3 linked regions of the Homo sapiens genome follow. The protein of the gene in region 1 purifies or fractionates together with the protein of each later gene. This does not show direct contact. Each region holds a gene or a part of one and is shown on either strand. Other genes may lie near its edges.

Region 1 (7,028 bases):
CTAAAATTGGTGAAGAGATGCAGGCCTTCTTATAAATAATCACTCCACATGTTCTAAAATCGTAGCTAAGTGAAGTAACTATTTGCAATTATGTTACTGAATAATTTAAGGAGGCAATATTATAAAACGAGGGTCCCTACTGATCAGTCAAAAGGATTTGCCAGACAGCAAATCTTCGAAAGTAAAAATTAAGGCAAACACTGAGACAGCATACCAAGGTAAGTAACTGTTCGAAGTGATAAATGCACCTTGGAAAATGAGAAAGACAAAGCTGCCTCCACATTAATTAGCTTGTGTAATTTCAAGTCTGATCAAATAATAACTTTATGCTAGTTTTTCCTTAAACAGAAATATTGCTGTATGCTAATAACTGTGGGAAAATGAAATCTGCAATGTTCGGAACATGTTTATTATCCAGCTTTGTGTTCTGAACCCATCTTAGCTCATTCCAGTCCAAGAATCCTAACACATGATTACCTTGATTGCTTCTACATCCCCTGGAGATGGCCCACCTTTCTTTTTGTCAGTTGGCAAACCAGCACCTGGATTAAAACTTAAGAGGGGGAAGAACATAACTGTTAGACCTAGACCAACAGAAGTTGCTTCTCTTTTACTTTCAAAAGCTTTTGAAAGTAATTCAACCAGTGTAGTATCTTATCTTTGTTAACAAACTGATACAAGAACTCTCTCCTTCAGAAACACCATCCAGTTCATCTTCCTATATAGAAAATAGGATGTACATGGTATCACATGAAGACTGACTACTGAAATATTTGCTCTGCTAAGCTGGTAGAAATTTCTTGTGATGTGTGGACCATTGATGTACATGGACTATAAGCACTCAAATTTAATACCACATTAATATGTCAGAGTTTTTGGTTAATTTTGTAGGAGACGAACTGCCAGACAGATCAGATCATGTTTCTGAAGGTGAAGTAGAGTTAAGTTGGATATCCGTGTCTTACGTTTTGCTTCTCCTGGCAATATCCTTTGCAAGCTGTGCACCCCGTTTGCCCTTGAACATTTTCTCTGCTTCCTGACGCTCCTACAGCGACACCACACACAGAGTTAATGGAAATAGGAATACCACATGCATTTAGATGCATTCCTCAGAAGACATGGAAGCGAACTCTCCTACAGTACTCCGGGCTGGTGAAAATACCAAAAAGCAATTTCAAATTAAGAGAAGACACAGTGGTCTTCTTTCTTTGGTAGAGCTCCCTGAAGAAAGTTCATTCTCCTAGCTCCAAGGAGGGGATCCCAGGGAACTAAGAAGGCAATTAAATGAATAATAAAATAATGAATTCCTAATAAAGGGAAAAATCATCCTAACACACGGAGCTGCACGAAAGTAGGTTACATTAAGTTCTCCGCTGGGAACGTATCTAGGCAGACAATCCACTGTTAAGACTGCTCACCGTGGCCTCAGCACTTTGCGAACTTCGGAATAGCCAGCATTACATAAGAGAGCTCCAACTTAAAAGTTCTATCATAAACTCTGCTATTAGAAAAAAATGTGATGTAACATTTTCCCTCCCACTTTTATTACAAACTAATGGTAAAATTTACTCATTTAGACAATTTTAATAATCAGTAACAAAAATATAAAGAAAAACACACAACTCTATAATGGCTCACAAGCAACAGATTACTACTTACTTTTAGTTTCACTTTCTGGAAATCCAGTACTCTGACTTGCGGAACTTTATAAATCACATACAATCTGTAATGCTTCTTATTGGTTACCGGATTTCTTAGGATACTACAAGAAAAGGAATGACACAATGGCAAACTTGTTCATGGCACAGCACTCAAGAGGTCTGTTTGAATAGTCTAAGGAACCTATAAATCAAGGGAACATTCACATTCTTCACATTGCAACATTGTAACAATTTAACATTAAGGAAATATATTCAATCTTTCTTTGTAAAAGGCACTTTTTTTTTAAATTATACTTTTAAGTTCTAGGGTACATGTGCACAACTTGCAGGTTTGTTACATATGTATACATGTGCCATGTTGGTGGGCTGCACCCATTAACTTGTCATTTACATTAGGTATATCTCCTAATGCTTTCCCTCCCCCCTTTCCCCACCCCACAACAGGCCCCGGTGTGTGATGTTCCCCTTCCTGTGTCCAAGTGTTCTCATTGTTCAATTCTCACCTACGAGTGAGAACATGGGGTGTTTGGTTTTTTGTCCTTGCGATAGTTTGCTGAGAATGATGGTTTCCAGCTTCATCCATGTCCCTACAGAGGACATGAACTCATCCTTTTTTATGGCTGCATAGTATTCCATGGTGCATATGTGCCACATTTTTTAATTATCTGATTACATTAAGGTCAAGGCTGGTAAAAGTAATGTTATTTTAAAGGGCTTCATTTTGTCACAATATGTAATTCCCATACCTTAGGTAAGTCAGCGATTTGAGAGATGCCAGAGGGTCCAGATCACCCTGTCAAGCAATAGCCACAGGTAAGAACGCGAATACCACACGCTATTTTGAGATTCTGAAATGGAGAGTGCTTTTGAAGCAAGTTGTCTTTTCATTATTTACTGAATTTTTACTCTCTAGCAACAAGCCCAATACTAGCACATCACAAATGTTTAAATAATTTCTACCGATGAATACATGGGAGCTTCTTAAAATCTTGGCATTAACAGCTTCTGTCTCAATAGCAGGAGATAAGAAATTGCTTTCCTACAGGAATCTCAAAGTGGCTGCTGAGCCATGATTTGGAAAAGAAAACAATGGCAAAGCTGATGGGACTCTGGAGCAACCTATTCACACTGGGAACTGCAAGCCAGAATCTTGGTGTAAGTGGGCTTTCCTGCTAGCGCCAGCTTCAGCGTCTAAGAACAACAAAGGTATACTGTCTTTTGAAAGAAGGTACATTTATCCTAGCTGCCCCTGAAAATCTCTTTAAATAAAATTTGCAGGGACAAGGAATAGTATAGCTTAAAAATGATCGAATTAATGGAAAGAAGGCAGGGTGATTTTTTTTTTTTTTTTTTTTGAGACGGAGTCTCGCTCTGTTGCCCAGGCTGGAGTACAGTGGCGTGATCTTGGCTCACTGCAAGCTCCGCCTCCCGAATTCATGCCATTCTCCTGCCTCAGCCTCCCAAGTAGCTGGGACTACAGGCGCCCACCACCATGCCCGGCTAATTTTTTTTGCATTTTTAGTAGAGACGGGGTTTCACTGTATTAGCCACGATGGTCTCGATCTCCTGACCTCGTGATCTGCCTGCCTCGGCCTCCCAAAGAGCTGGGATTACAGGCGTGAGCCACCACGCCCAGTGGGCAGGGTGAATTTTTAATCTTCTCCAATTGTTCCATAAAACATAGTGCAATAAGGATAGCAAAAAAACAAAAACCTATGGTTACCAGCTACAACCAAGCTAGATGGCAAGGCATTCTGCAGTAACTCTAAAATAGGAACAAGTAGAGACAACCCATGTTGAGAGCAACAAGGCTTGCAGGGTGACGGCCTTTGTACAGGAAGAAGCAGAGGGGAGGCGAGGAGCCGTCTTACAAACTGGAGAACTCCAGTGACTGAGAAAAGCAGGCCCAAGACCAGCATGTTCCAATAATGACTACAGGGGTCTGTGATAAGGGCTGCAGGGGCAAGAGCAATTTGGGCCCTCACTCTTAATAGAAATCATGTCCCAACACGGCCCTGCCCTGAAGAGAAACTGCTGGAACAGGCGCAAATTGGGTAGATGGTGGGGAAGGGGTGTGTGTGTGCAAGAGGCACAATGAGAAAAAAAAGTACAGATAAAAACAGGGAGAGCAGAGCCAGAAATTCTCAAAAAGCAAGCTGCCATCTTCAAATATGTCACAAAAACCACCAGAGGGAGCTCTAGAGCTTGATACTGTTTTACCCCCACTGAAGATGATCCAAAAAGGAATAAAGAACAAAGTGGTAACATTTGTTACATACACAGTGTAAAACGTAATGGCGATGTAGTGATGGGCTTCAAAAAAGAATAAATATGTAACAACCCGAAGGCTGCTGAAATGTTGAAGGTCACTGTACTGTATTGTTTAGCAGGGTAAAGGTGTCAAAGTTTAAAATTAAATGTTGAAGGTCATGGTACAGTGATCTTAACATTTAATTTTAAACTTTTATAAATATGTGTGTTTTAATTCCTACGATGCTAACTCAAGATTGAAAGAGAGTAATTTCTAAACCATCAGAAGAAAAAATGGAATGACAGAAGGAGAGCATCTACAATAAAGGAGAGAAAACGGATTGAAGAACGGGTGGGACAGACAGGAAGCCCCAGAACAGAGAGAAGACAAACTGGAACACACCAGTAATTACATTAAATGTAAACAGACTAAATATAAATAATTCACTTAAAAGAGCTTTCAGACTGGATTGTAAAAAATTCCAACCAGAGCTGGGCGCGGTGACTCACGCCTATAATCCCAGCACTTTGGGAGGCCAAGGCGGGTGGATCACAAGGTCAGGAGTTCGAGACCAGCCTGACCAACATGGTGAAACTTCGTCTCTACTAAAAAAAAAAAAAATACAAAAATTAGCCAGATGTGATGGCGCCCACCTGTAATCCCAGCTACTCGGGAGGCTGAGGCAGCAGGAGAATCACTTGAACCCAGGAGGCAGAGGTTGCAGTGAGCCGAGATCTCGCCACTGCACTCCAGCCACTCCATCTCAAAAAAAAAAAAAAAAAATTCAACCATACAGTTTTTAAGAGAGAAATCTAAACTACAAGAGGTACAGACAAGCTGAAAGTAAATTTTGGATGGAAAACGATTTATCATGCATATAACTAACCAAAACAAAGATTGTTTCGAGGTAAAAGAAACCTCAAGGTAAACAGCATTAATAGAGATCGAGGGTCACAACATAATAAAAAGTTTCCGTTCACCAGAAAGATATGAATAATTTAAAATTTGTATGTATCAAATAAGGCAACTTCAAAATATACAAAACTAAAATCGACAGAACTTCAGGGATAGTCAAATCCACTACCATGCTGTGAGATTCTAACATACCTCTCTCAATAACTGATAAGCCCAGTAGTCTTCATCTTTGCAAAGAGCTTTAAATACAACTCTAATTTCTCTAACAGCACCTATCATGAGACACATTGCCTATAAATATGTATTTCGGGTTGAATACTTCACACACTTCAGAAAGGACATGGCCATGGACCAGTGCTGTCTTATGTTTGTAGTCAAGCATCTCCTTGAGAATCTGAAGGATGCTATGGACCTTGTCCACAAGGAAAGGAACACAGTTCATTCTCAACAATCAGGAAAATACGGGAGGAAGGTTAAGTCACAAAATTAAGTTATACGATTTTTTTTTTTTTTTGAGATGAGGTCTTGCACTATTGCCCAGACTGGAGTACAGAGACATGATCATGTCTCACTGCAGCCTCGACTGATGGCTAGGGCTCAAGTGATCCTCCCACTTTAGCCACTGGAATACCTGGGACCACAGATGCACGCTACCACTTTTGGCATTTTTTTTTTTTTTTTTTTTGAGACGGAGTCTCTTTCTTTGCCCAGGCTGGAGTGCAGTGGCATGATCTCAGCTCATTGCAACCTCTGCCTCCTGGGTTCAAGCAATCCTCCTGTCTCAGCCTCCCAAGAAGCTGGGATTACAGGAACCCACCACCACGCCCGGCTAATTTTTGTATTTTTAGTAGAGACGGGGTTTCACCATATTGCCCAGGCTGGTCTTGAACTCCTGACCTCGTGATCCACCCGCCTCGGCCTCCCAAAGTGCTGGGATTACAGGCATGAGCCACTGCACCCGGCTTTTCTAAAAAAATTACTTATAGAGAGAGACAAGGTCTCACTATGTTGCCCAGGCTGGTCTAGAACTCCTGGGCTCAAGTGATCCTCCCACCTTGGCTTCCCAAAGTGCTTGGATTACAGGCATGAGCTATGGCACCTGGCCTACAATATAAATTTAAGCATCCAGTGTTTAAGTGAAGAATTTAGGTTACAAAACAATACACAGTATCTCAATTATGTTAAAAATTGGATACACAGAACAGAAATTTAAAAAGCATGAAAACAGTTCCAAGTGGATTGTTCATCTAACGTGAAGAGTAAAACAAGGTTTCTAGACTGGAACTGTTCAGCAAGATTTAATGCATATCAGATATGTAATCTAAAATTTTCTAGTAGCCATGTTAAAATAGGTGAAACTAATTTTAATAATATGCCATTTAACTTATTATCCAAAACGTTATCATTTCAACATCGATATAAAAAAATTACTGAGATAGTTTACTTTTTTTTTTTTTTGCACTTAAGTCTTTGAAATCCAGTGTGTATTTTATAGTTCTAGCACATCTCAATTATAAGTAGCCACCTGTAGTTACTGGTACTATATTGAACACTGCAATTGTAGAAAACAACATAGGAGTTTATAACCCTGGAATAGGGGAAATTTAAACATCAAAAGGGCTACAATAAAGAAGAAGATTGATTCATTGGACTGCACCTAAATTAGGAACTTCTCTAACAAGACATCCTAAGTCAAAAGTCAAGTAAAAGTAGGAAAATATTTGCAACATACGGCTGCAGAACCCAAAAGGCCCAGATCCTGAATTAAGAAAAAGACAAGAAAGAGGATACTGAGATCATTTTCTAGATTTTGTAAATTTTCTGTAGGAAGCACATAGTACCTTTAACCCCACCCACCAAATACATTTTCCTTCTGTGCAACTTACCAGTTCCACGAGACTATTATTGGTGAGAATGAGTTCTGTCAGACAGGGCAGAGCCTGATCAAGTCCCTCACCTATACGGCTAAAATAAAAATAGAGTCTTAGTAAAAGTGAAAATTAAATAAGCTAACAATTTTATCTACCTCCTTGCTCAGAGGATCACAGAGAGACACTTAGAGATCCTTCTTCCAACACCCTGATAAAGAGGAAACAAAGCAAAAAGAACCCTTTTCTGAGGCCACAGGGTCAGCAACAGAAGTGGGATTTTAGACACTGCCTGGGGCTAATTCCACTGTCATACCATCTAGTGGAACCTGA
Region 2 (6,269 bases), on another chromosome or scaffold:
ATGTGACAATTATTATGTACCCATAATAATTAAAAAACAATTTAAAGAGGCAAATCTAAGTTTCTAACAATGTACTATCATCTAAATGACCATTTCTATAATAGACCTCTGTTCTAAAGACAAGGGTACCCATATTGACACAGGTGTTTTGTTAACTATAAAGCAAGCATTATTCAAATGTAAAGGCTTGGTTAATAACTGGTTGTTATCACACCAGCTTTGTATGTTAGCATTTTATTCATTCAACCAACATCATGAACTTTGGTTTCCTCACCTGCAAAATGCAAATACCTATCTTCACTGAGTTGTTATGAAGATTTCATTATTAATGGACATGCAATAAACAGCAAGTTCCTTTGATGGCTAAGCACTGCACCGGGCCCTGGAGGCATTAAGAATGTAAAGAGATCCTGTTCTCAAGAAACTCAGAATCCCTAGGAGCACCTACAATTCTTGATAAGCTTCAACTGTTTTTTCCTGGTATCAAACAGGAAGGGAAAGTTCAAGAGAAAAGACTGAGGTGTTTCACAAAAAGCTACAAGTTTATTAACATAATGTATTCCAATATGTATCAAAGTTTCAAGCAGGTCATTTTGAACCTCAAATAAGAAATCACAATATTTAGTATTAATTAAAAAGGAAAAAAAGGTGGTAGTTGTCATTCGTGGGATTTAGTCCAAATGAAAATGTAGAAAACATTTATTTTGGTGGATCTGTGTTGATGCCATATTTCTCCTTGAGAAGCTTCAACTGTTCCTCCTTCTTCTTTGTGTCCATCTTCTGAAATGCCTGGAAATGTGGTAAGCACCAAAATTAAATTACCAATCTACAGCCAAATGAATTTCATCAATAGCATTAGCCAAAAAAGAAAGTCATAGTAGACATATATCATCACAGTACAGTTCTACACTAATTCTCTTGAGACGGAGTCTCTCTGTTGCCCAGGCTGGAGTGCAGTGGCGTGATCTTGGCTCACTGCAGGCTCCACCCCCTGGGGTTCACGCCATTCTCCTGCCTCAGCCTCCCGAGTAGCTGGGACTACAGGCGCCCGCCACCACGCCCGGCTAATTTTTTGTATTTTTAGTACAGACGGGGTTTCACCGTGTTAGCCAGGATGGTCTCGATCTCCTGACCTCGTGATCCGCCCACCTCGGCCTCCCAAAATGCTGGGATTACAGGCATGAGCCACCGCGCCCGGCCAGTTCTACACTAATTCTCAAATGAGATCACTACACAATGAGAACTTTGCTATACTTACCCTGTTGGCATTATAGTACAAAACCACAAGGTATCTGTTACAAACATTGAATCCCGATAGGTGATCACATGCATTCTTGGCATCAAAGATGTCCTCATAGACCACATAAGCTGTTCCTCTAGTTTCAGGTGTGTTCCCCCTGGAGAGGTAAGTTAAACTTAATTAAGATATACATTTACCTGAGCATTGATAGTTGACTTACAGAACTGTCTTTTAAACTGGTAACTGTCTTTTAAAAACAGTAAATTGAAATACGTTTTTAGTTAAGTATTTTGAAATCAACCTGAAACCATCAGAGGAAATAAACATGGATAGATATACCGGATAAGCCTGTAATTTCTTGAATTAGGTAATTTTGTTCTTCGTTTTTATCTTAACTAAAATATCCATAGGTCAAGCTGACTGTCACATCAGGAATACTAAGAACACAGCTACTACACAGAACAGCCTCGTGAGTTGTGGGGACTACAGGTGCTCTTGCCACCCTGACTGGCTCTACGTTGTCTTTGTTTTGTTTTGTTTTTGTTTTTGTTTTTGTTTTTTTGAGATAGACTCTCACTCTGTTGCCTAGGCTGGAGTGCAGTGGCACAATCTCAGCTCATTGCAACCTCTGCCTCTCAAGTTCAAGTGATTCTTGTGTCTCAGCCTCCCAAGTAGCTGGGACTGGAGGCATGTGCCACCATGCCCAGCTAATTTTTGTATTTTTAGTAGAGACAGGGTTTCATCATGTTCCCCAGGCTGGTCTTAAACTCCTGACTTCAAGTGATCCGCCTGCCTCAGCCTCCCAAGGTGTTGGAATTACAGGCATGAGCCACCACACCCGGTCTACATTCATTTTTAATACAACTCAAGTGCTAATGCACGATACAGCTGTGTGGCTAGGGAGAAGGGCTAGGCTTCTGCAAAGATGGGAGTGGAAGTGTGCTTGTGGATAGGGTTATCAGTGAGCCAGGGCAGAATGCTGGAAGGTGGCTGGAAGTGGAAGCTAACCTTACTTATGGATACGAGGTTGCTGTTAGTGTAGTTATTCCTGGCCACTTCCTTCCTTCACCTCACCAACTTCCTCTGGGAGAGGTAGAGAAGTTTGAGGAGCAACGCAACGCTAAATTGCAGGCAGCAGGTGGCCATGTGACTGTTAGTGGAGACAATGGGTAGAGGTCCCACTCAGTTCAGGCTCTGGGTGACAAGATGGCCCCCTTGCCTCCATCTGTGTTCCAACCACCCAGTGCAACTGTGGAATGAGGTTTAAGACTGTGGGCTGACTCTCCATCTGCCACAGTCCTTACATAGGGTTGAATAAAAGCAGTGGAGCCATGGGAAGAGGAGGTACCTGCCTAGACTTGATCTAGGATAGGACTATAGTCTGGGCCCTGTTCAAGCTTGTGCTTCCTGTAAAATTGAAAAGGAATAGGGTACTGGGGGTGATTGGAGGGTGCCACTGTCAATGAATGCGCTCACTTTGTCAGGTTGTGTGGGCCTGACGAGGGGTTTTAGAATGTTCTTTAGGCTCTGGCAAGTCTTAACAACTTTCAGACTTTTGACTTCTAAAAACTTAATAAGATTTTCAGTTCCTTAAGAGCAAAGGTGATCTTATGCGTACTTCATTTATTCCTTTAGTGCCACGCATAAGGCAGACGCTAATACGCCTTTGAAAAGTGGAGATCTACTTTCTTCTATCAGTTCTCTCACACACACTTTGTTCAGGAAGCTCAAAACAAAACTAAACAAAGCAACTCTCTTTCTTCCTCTTATATCTTCTTAGGAACTAGAATAGGGATAGACACTAACCCCACTTTAAAGACTCTCCATCTTAAGTGTCCCAGCCCTAATTATCAACCTCACACCTTGAGAGCCATATTATAATTTGAACTTTTAAAAGCATGTATCTGTACCTACCACGTATTGGACACTGAGCTAACATTATTTTCTTATTTTTTTGAGACAGAGTCAACCAATTCTTGTGCAGGTGTGCGCCACCATGCCCGACTAATTTTTGTATTTTTAGTAGAGATGGGGTTTTGCCATGTTGGCCAGGCAGGTCTCGAACTCCTGGCCTCAAGTGATCCACCCACCTCAGCCTCCCAAAGTGCTACAATTTTCTTGACTGGCATTAAAATCTTAGAGTAGGAATAAGAACACCTAAGCGTGTAACTTAGCCTCTGTGAGCTTCGGATGCTTCATGTATCCAGTGCCATCAGGCTCTATCACGTGCCCTACCTTCCACGTGGGTTTAATAATCAAAAGAGGTAACAAGTATCAAAGAGTTTTAAAAAGTACAAAGTACCAAGTGCCTGCTACATGCCAGGTAGGGTCAAACCAAATCATCCTGATTTGACTGGGACTGTCCAGGTTTTAGCACTGAAAGTCCAGTGTCCCAGAAAATCTCTCAGTACTGGGCAAACTGGGAAGGTTGGTCACCCTAGTGCCAGGTGCCAGGTATACAATAAAGCATGATCACAGTAATGGAACAGAAAAACAGCTGTTTCTCAATCTATAATTTAGACCTAAGCTCCTGTACCCTAAACTTCTATTAACCTATTCAACACATAGACTATGTTCTTTCTGCGACAGGCACTAGAAATACAATAGTGAAAAAGATAAGCATCATCCCTTCCTTCAAGCTTATATTCAGGCAGTAGAAAGACATTAAATAAATATGAAATCATTATAAATCTTTTTTTTTTCTTTTTGAGACGGAGTCGCACTCTGTCGCCCAGGCTGGAGTACAGTGGCATGATCTTGGCTCACTGCAACCTCCACCTCCCGGGTTCAAGCGGCTCTCCTGCCTCAGCCTCCTGAGTAGCTGGGATTATAGGCATGCACCACCACGCCTGGCTAAGTTTTGTATTTTTAGTAGAGACGAGGTTTCACCATGTTGGTCAGGCTGTTCTCAAACTCCTGACCTTGTGATCTGCCCACTTCAGCCTTCCAAAGTGCTGGCATTACAGGCGTGAGCCACTGCGCCCAGCCCTGAAATAATTATAAATCTTAAGAAATGTTTCGGCTTGGCACGGTGGCTCATGCTTGTAATCCCAGCACTTTGGGAAGCCGAGGTGGGAGGATCACCTGAGGTCAGGAGTTCAAGACCAGCCTGGCCAACGTGGTGAAACCCCATCTCTACTAAAAATACAAAAATTAGCCAGGCATGCTGGTGGGTGCCTGTAATCTCAGCAACTCAGGAGGCTGAGGCTGGAGAACCACTTGAACCTGGGAGGCGGAGTTTGCAGTGAGCCGAGATCGTGCCATTGCACTCCAGCCTGGGCAACAAGAGCGAAACTCCATCTTAAAAAAAGAAATGTTTCATACAAGAAGTAGAAAGCTGTAACAGATAGGGAAACAGGGAGCTACTTCAGCTAGGGTGGTCAGGGAAAACCCCTCTGAAAAGGTGACACTGAAGCTGAGACCTGAAGAATGAGGAGGAGCCAGGCATGAGATGAGCTGGTGAAAACCATTCCAGATACAAGGAAAATAGAAGCACAAAGGTTCTGAGCTGCTCTGCACTCTTCTGAAGATGCCCCTGCTTTATTCCCTGTCCTTTCATTTTGGCTTTCTGAAACATTCTCTAACTTCACTGATTTTAAGCATCCCTTAATTGAGTACTATCAATAAATTTTATAATGCCCTAGTAAACCAATCACAACCACTTTTTATATTATTCTTCTATTTTCTTTTCTTTTGTTGAAACAGGATCTCACTCTGTCGCCCAGACTGGAGTGCAGTGGCATGATCTCGGCTCACTCACTGCAGCCTCAGCCTCCCAGGTTCAAGCGATTCTCCCACTTGAGCCTCCTGAGTAATTGCATTACAGGCGCGTGCCACCATGCCCAGCTAATTTTTGTATTTTTTTTTAGAGAGGGGGTTTCACCATTTGGCCAGGGTGGTCTCGAACTCCTAACCTCTGGTGATCTGCCTGTCTCGGCCTCCCAAAGTGCCGGGATTACAGGTGTGAGCCACCACATCTGGCCTATTCTACTATTTTCTATATTATTCATTTAGTATACATCGGGTGCTTACCATGTATCGCACAAGTGCTATCAACACAAAAACAAAAATAATATATGGTACGAGCCCTGGAGGAACTCACAACCTGCCCAGGGTGACAGATGAATATAGAGACAACAGCAAAACCATGTGTTAACCTAGGAGAGACACATGGAAATGCTATGGGAGCAGAAGAGTGGCTAATGTACACTGGGAAGGAAAACTGATAAAGTACCTTCACAGACACTGTGTAATTTCATCCAAATTAAAATTCTTTTAAGACAGTAGGTTAGGAAGACTGTATTTCATAGATAATTGAAACCCAGATAAGGTTAAATATTTTCTCCAGTTTCGTAAGAGTAGGCAAGCCAGTATTTGAACCCAGGCCTTACAACCAATCTATGCTGTTTCCACATTAAAAGCTAAAAGGCCACCACCCAGATTATCTCATACATGAAGAGAAAACCAAAAAAGCTAGGCAACTAGTCACACACATGGCTAGTAACAAGGCCTGAAGTAGAATCTTGTCTCCTGATCCCCAAGGCAGGGATTCGCCATGTTGGCCAGGCAGGTCTTGAACTCCTGGCCTTGTATACCATTCTGTATCTAGAGCAGGGTTTCTTGACCTAGAGTCCATGTATCCCCTGAAATATATGCAACATGAGTGTATTCTTCTGTGGAAGGAGTCTAAAGCTTTTATCAGATGCTCAAAGGACTGAGACCTCCTAAAAAGGACAGCTGGTCTATAACACTTTCACTTTCATCCCCATCTGAGTACCAATGATCATGTATTTCCAGCTCTTGGTTTACTCTCTGGAGGGACAGTGTCATTCAAAAGGAGGGTCCTCAAGACCTCATAGTCCTAAAGCCAGGAAGGAGCTCTCAAGTCATACAAGACGGAATTCCGACTAGAAATAAAAACTTTATACGTAGTCATTACTGTGGTAAAATAATAATTTTTTTAAAATAAAAACTTTAGAAATCCTTTCAGATGGACTCTTAAGTCACTAGCCCTTTCATATGAGTTCGG
Region 3 (7,028 bases), on another chromosome or scaffold:
TCACTGCCTTGATCTGTGCTGAAGTGCCAACAGTTTACCCACCAAATGCTTTTGTACCTCCAGCTACACTTGCATTAGTGCAAATGCCAAAATGGTGAAAAAGGCATAAATAATGCCTTAGTATTATTACAAAATAGTTTTGAATTCACAGACCCTTCTCAGAGATTCTCAGTGACTCCAGGGGTCTTCAGACTACACTTTGAACACTGCTGTAATAACATATATTAAAAAAATACTTATTGTAGTATTATCTATCCAAAATGTTACTTGAAAGCTTTAAACAAAAAATATATGCCCATCAACAAAGAAATAACAAACAACTGCACTTCCCCACCACAGAACATTATGATGCCTTAAGAAAGAACAGATTAGAGCTGTTAACAGTTTACCTGCAGGGATTTCCAACATATGTTTTGTGCGGTGAGAAAGGCATATGCATAATGCAATCCCATAGTCAAAGTATAAGTATAGATACGTTATGTATGTACAGATTTTTACACAATAAAAATCATAAGGAAATATACATACTAGGTTTCTAACATCGCTTCAGAGGGCTAAGTTATGCAAGCAGAACATAAAAAAAAAAAAGGAAGGCGCCTAGAAAAAAAAGAGTAAAAGAAAAAAGCACATACAATTGTATTTATTTGTCAAGTAAAATCATTGATGTAGGGATACATATGAGGAGAAGTTAAATTTTAAAGGAAAAAAGACAAAGATTGCCTTCTATACTCACATGTGCATCTGAAGATCCAGATGAATGAACATCTGATGATCTCGTCTACAAGTATCAAAAATAAAAGTCAATAATTTAAAATGTCTTATACTAACAAAACATGTCTCTCGTGTTATACAAACTTAAGAGTTTCCTAACTTCTGGCAATTTCTCCTCAGCTAATAAAACTGAGCAAAGGCAGTCTCTGACTTATGAAAAGATTGTGATACAAAGTAAATGTGTAAGTCATTTCTTTAAAATTCAGCCTGCATATTTCCAAAAATATAATAAACACTAGTGGGATATATATGAGGCAAAATTACCTCTTTATAGTATACACTGGAAACCTAACCACCATTTTTACACAGTTTTATGCAAAAGCTCTTCCTAATCATAGATGCATCGTTTACTGCCACAGCACTGCCCAGCAACTTCTTGGTCCACAGCACGAGAACTCTCTTTCTCTAATCACCCAAAGCCACATAAAGAAATCCACATATAAATCCTTGCTGTCTATTAAAAGGTACAAATTCTGCAAAGTTCCAGAAAATATTATCAAATCCCCAATAAGGCACCATTTACAACTCGTTTTAAGGGAGATGATTCGATAGCATGTCACAGGCTGCCTGGTGGCATGAGAAAGAGTTCATATAATATCTTCCAGTGATGTCAACTGTTAAAACTTCAACTTTTCTTAAGTGATCTACCTATCAGATTATACATGGTATGCAATAACTTGTTGCCACTACACATGTAAAGACAAAGATGACAAGCTGTAGGACGATTAACTAAATAATGTATGCTATCTTTCTGAAAGAAAGATTCTCCAAGAATTTTTACTTGGGGATCCAAAATATAACTGTCACTGAGCTGTTTTTATTTTTGAGGGTATACGGTAGTGAAATTTTACTTGTTTTTATTTATATATTTAAGTGTCAAATGTTCAAATGAAATCAAGAATATTGAGATCACAAATATCTCACCTGACCCCAACTCCCAGACAAGATGTCATATAAAGTACAAGATAAAATATTAGTTTAAGAGAAAAACTGAAGATTCATGTTATTTAAAAAAGAGCAAAGATCCATACAGTATTGTTTTATTTACATTGTCCAGACATAAGGCTAAGAACAGCTGGTAAGATTTTTACACTGAATCAATTTACTCCTCTGAACTCCACTGTATTGCGCATTAGCATAGGCAAAAATCAGCCCAGGACAACAGGACAACCAAGCACTGGGACCCCTCCCATCTCATTCTTTCTTTCATTTTTTTTTTTTCTTGAGACAGAGTCTTACTCTGTCTCCCAGGCTGGAGTACAGTGGCGCGACCTCGGCTCACTGCAGCCTCCGCCTCCCGGGTTCCAGTAATTCTCCTCCCTCAGCCTCCTGGGTAGCTAGGAGTACAGGCACGCACCACCATGCCTGGCTAATTTTTGTATTTTTAGTAGAGACGGAGTTTTACCACGTTGGCCAGGCTGGTCTCGAACTCCTGACCTCAGGTGATCTGTCCACCTCAGCCTCTGAAAGTGCTAGGATTACAGACATGAGCGACCGCACCCGGCCCCATCTCACTCTTTCTGTCCATGGTTTTTCTGTCCCCAACTTTTGTGTCCACCCTGATTTTCTTCTAGCGGCTAATCTTTCTTAAATGTCAAGGTGGTATAAAAGAAAATTTTTAGTATTTATTAACTATGAAACACACCCTGAAACATATCTTGAAATGCATAAATTTACAAATATCTAGAAATTTAAAAATCCAAAAGAATAAATAACTACTCTTACAAAAGAAAAACAAGTTCAGGCAAGAGGCTGAAGGGACTGAAAAAAATCAACTGCCTGGGCCAGGTGCAGTGGCTCACGCCTGTAATCCGAGCACTTTGGGAGGCCGAGGCGGGTGGATCAAGAGATGGAGACCATCCTGGCCAAACCTGGTGAAACCCCATCTCTACTAAAAATACAAAAATTAGCCAGGCGCCTGTAGTCCCAGCTACTCGCTGAGGCAGGAGAATGGTGTGAACCCGGGAGGCAGAGCTTGCAGTGAGCTGAGATCGCGCCACTGCACTACCGCCTAGGCGACAGAGACTCCATATCAAAAACAAACAATAGTAACAAAAAAAACTCAATTGCCTTCCAATACACCAGTATTAACTTGCTAAGCAACAAAAACATCCTAATCATAAAAGCAACAAAAAATATAAAAACATCTAGAAACCAATTTAAGAAATGTATATAACCCTTGTGAAGAAAACAAAAACTTCGAGAAAAATCCAGTTACTCAAGCCACCTTTTCAAAAGATTCATATTACTGGATGGGAAAATTCAATATTAAGATAATGTCAATGACACCTAAATTTCTTTACATATTTAATACAATTTCATTCAACCGCTCTAAATTCCAAAGGGAAATATTTGCAAGGGGGCAAAAGAATTGCCAAAACAATTCTAAAGTTCACCCAGAAAGAATAAGCATCCAAAAGAATAACTAAGAAAGCGCTACCCTTTCTGTAGTCTTTGATGCCACCACATCCAAATCATCATTTCTAGGATTTAAAAACAAAAGATACAAGAACCTAGGCATTCTGCCTATTTCCATATAGTTAACTCTTCCCTGACTCCAAGTCATCAAAAGATGAAGCTCTATAATCTTCAAGGATCTCACTTGCGTAACCATTCACCAAATTAAATAATCTCTAATACAAAAATAATCAGTTCAAAAGTAACAATTTTGTCAGCTTTCAAAATTACACAATTTGATAAATTTGCAAACAGAGCAGTAACAGCATAGTGTAGCACAATGCACCGGTGTAGGACAATGCACCAGCTGATTTCAGTTAGCTTAAGATGTCACTAATCACATTTACTGCAAACCAGACATTTTCCACTGATACATACCTACAGCTACATAGCATTCAGCACGGAACTTTAACAGTTCAAACAGCAGTTAACACAATTTTTAAAATAATCATCAACTTCTAAAGATAACAGTCAAGGTAAACAGTAAATATAGCACTACTTCAGAAGCTGAGCTTCTCCCTCTTCCTAACCTGGAACTGAACTGTATTCTTTGTCTTGAGTTTGGCTTTTTATTTTTAACTGAAGAACACAAACCAATGATGCCTAAAGATCTCCTGAAGTCGGCCGGGCGCGGTGGCTCACGCCTGTAATCTCAGCACTTTGGGAGGCCAAGGCGGGCGGATCACAAAGTCAGAGGAGATCAAGACCATCCTGGCTAACACAGCAAAATCCCGTCTCTACTAAAAATACAAAAAATTGGCCAGGTGCGGTGGCGGGCACCTGTAGTCCCAGCTACTCGGGAGGCTGAGGCAGGAGAATGACGTGAACCCGGGAGGCGGAGCTTGCAGTGAGCTGAGATAGCACTACTGCAGGCCTGGGCGACAGAGCGAGACTCTGTCTCAAAAAAAAAAAAAAAAAAATCTCTTGAAAGGACCCAAAAGCTGCTGGAGGGAGTGGCTCATGCCTATAATCTCAGCTACTAGGGAGGCTGAGGTGGGACGACTGCTCGAGGCCAGGAGTTCAAGACCAGCCTGGGCAACATAGCAAGAACCCCTGTCTCTGGAAAAAAAAAAAAAGAAAAGAAAAGAAAAATACAAAAGGAAGAAGTGAAAAGGCAGACTAAGGGAAGTTTGACACAATAAAGTAGCATACACAAGAGAAATTTATTTTAAGGCAGAGAAAGCAGACAGTAGAAATGTGGGGAGGGACAGCAAGAAAATCCAAAAGGAAAAAAGATCATTCTGATGGCTGCTAAAGGGATAAAAGTGAAGCCAACTACACTACCTGTTGCCCTATAGCTTGCTGGCTGAGAACAAAACTAGTTTTCTTCTGGCTGCTCCAATTTTACTTTAAGTGAAAACCCCACATCTGAGTTTCCAAATTACCAAGCTATCCACAGCAACATTCCTCCAACACTACCATTCTGCCTAGTGAGCTCTCCATTCGTGTATCTGTCTCCTAATCTCCCACGTTTCTCCTCTCACCCTCTAAGAGAAGCAACTTTCATCTCCACAAGTTTAACAATCTCTCCTATAGGAAGCATAACACCACCTTAATTGCATTGTGCTGACTCTCTTCTACTAGACAGCATGCTCCTCAAAGATGGGTACATTCTTTTTTTTGAGACGGAGTTTCGCTCTTTTTGCCCAGGCTGGAGTGCAATGGCATGATCTCGGCTCTCGGCAACCTCCGCCTCCCAGGTTCAAGCGATTCTCCTGCCTCAGCCTCCCGAGTAGCATGTGCCACCATGCCCAGCTAATTTTGTATTTTCAGCAGAGATGGGGTTTCTCCATATTGGTCAGGCTGGTCTTGAACTCCCGACCTCAGGTGATCCACCCGCCTTGGCCTCCCAAAGTGCTGGGATTACAGGCGGGAGGCACTGTGCCCGGCCGCTAAAAATGGGTACATTCTTATTTAACATTTTCTAACTCAACATCAAGCACAAGATCTGGCAAGCGACAGAGTCTCAATATACTTGACTTGTCAGAACAAGTGCCTACCACCAAACAAAATTACACTCCACACTATCAACATACTATGCTGTCCACTCATTAACAACAGCTACCTAGCTTAATACCACTATCCAAGCCAAATCAAGGTATCCATCTTTAAAAAACATTCACAAAATCATTAATACAAGCACTATATAAATAAAGTTAAATAACAAACCTAAGATGATTTTTTAAATTATTCAAAACACTACCAATACTATATGAAAAGTTGTAAGTACACTCTGAATAACCTATAGTTTATCTAAACTGAGGAAGGGCCTTGTGAAAAAACTTAACTCAAGGAATATATGTCTAACACTACCGTTAGCCTCAAGTGCTACTGACAAATGTATCTTGCTTTCAAAAACGTTATTTCAGCAAAATATCCAGCTCACAGCTGATGTGCAATAAAATGTTAAAACCACCTATACTAGAATGAGGCAAATAGTTTGTAATATTACTATTTTTGATTTTAATATCTTGTAGCAAGTTTTTCTTTTTATTCCAAAAATGATGGCTCCTTGAAAAAAAGGGTGGAGGGTAGAGGGGTAGATACTTCAACCGGCATACTAAATGAGCTCTTCTCTCAATGATACCCAGTAAGGCAAATGGGTATCTTTCTTAGGTTTACTTTCCAAGGAAAACAAAGCTTCAGAAATAAAAAACAAAAAGTGAAAATAAAAACTGGACTTTCAGAAAACAATTCAATCCAGAAAGATAGGAATTATTTTTAAAACCATACCAACAGGCATATTCTAGCACCCGTGCTGCAGGTTCAAGTTTCGAAAAAGTTATCAATCGAGAAAATGGAAGGAAGTTCAGTTCTACCTTCCAGACCAAAACAAAACCTTCTACCAAAAAAACTACCTTACATTTTAAGATAAGGTTACAACCATAAACCATAATAAAGATTCAGTTTAAAATTGGCAAACTGTTTGAAAGCCTGATTTTCAAGGTTTGTATTTTGTTTGGACTTTTTCATAAACTTTCAGGTACCACAAAAAATGAAAACTGGCAGTAATAAATACCTAAGGTTCACAAGCCTTGAACAGGTCCTCAGTTTACTTATTTCTTAAAAGTGATACTTTTTGTTAATCAGCAAAGGCAGTCAATCAAAACAGTTCCCAAAGCAATTCAGCACTGGATGTCCAAGGAAGCCTGTAGTATTTTGTTTTATCCATTCACCTAACTCAATTTTTGGCGATACGGCAAAAAAGAAAAAAAAAAAAAAAGCCATAGTCACAGAGTGAAATAGCAGGGCACACAATTACATTACATTAGCAATATTACCAGCACAGGAGATGGCAGAAGGAAAGAAAATACTACATTTTCTTCATATCCTAATTTTGCTGAGTAAGCAAACAATTGACAGTCAAAAACAGTAATTTTTTTATAAATTAAATTCTAAGGAAATATGCTTAACAATTTTATAAGTAAACAATTACAGGCTCTCTCTCTCTCCTCTCAAAATGAAAGCTACTACATAACATCAACACCCCTCCCCAACCAAGCAATATTTTAGACTAGTGATAAACAAACAAATGCACAGGAAAATTTTAGCTCATTTCTAGAACATTTGTTAAATGTCTACATCTGCCAGGCTCTAAAATGCAAAGCACAACAAAATTACACAGAAAATTAAAGTGCACAGGGGTCTCTTCATTAGGGACAATTATGAATAAAGGTAAGTCATTCAAGTACATACACATACATAAAGTATCATTTTAAAACTAGAAGCCAGGCACGGTGGCTCACGCCTATAATCCCCGCACTTTGGGAGGCCGAGGCGGGGGGGGGGGGTCACAAGGT

What was found.
Region 2: the proteins of SNRPA1 (region 1) and SF3B6 purify together in Homo sapiens (affinity purification with mass spectrometry; 5 studies listed by BioGRID and IntAct, with this or other methods). This does not show direct contact.
Region 3: the proteins of SNRPA1 (region 1) and U2SURP purify together in Homo sapiens (affinity purification with mass spectrometry; 5 studies listed by BioGRID and IntAct, with this or other methods). This does not show direct contact.

The regions. Positions count from the first base shown.
Region 1 is NC_000015.10:101,285,249-101,292,276, forward strand, and holds part of SNRPA1 (U2 small nuclear ribonucleoprotein A'), read right to left. Parts: intron 6,793-7,028; coding exon 6,714-6,792; intron 2,455-6,713; coding exon 2,408-2,454; intron 1,763-2,407; coding exon 1,660-1,762; intron 1,046-1,659; coding exon 966-1,045; intron 554-965; coding exon 478-553; intron 1-477. UniProt on the Homo sapiens protein: Involved in pre-mRNA splicing as component of the spliceosome. Associated with sn-RNP U2, where it contributes to the binding of stem loop IV of U2 snRNA.
Region 2 is NC_000002.12:24,067,063-24,073,331, forward strand, and holds the end of SF3B6 (splicing factor 3B subunit 6), read right to left. Parts: intron 1,398-6,269; coding exon 1,259-1,397; intron 790-1,258; coding exon 700-789; 3' UTR 524-699; downstream 1-523.
Region 3 is NC_000003.12:143,004,565-143,011,592, reverse strand, and holds part of U2SURP (U2 snRNP-associated SURP motif-containing protein), read right to left. Parts: intron 779-7,028; coding exon 734-778; intron 1-733.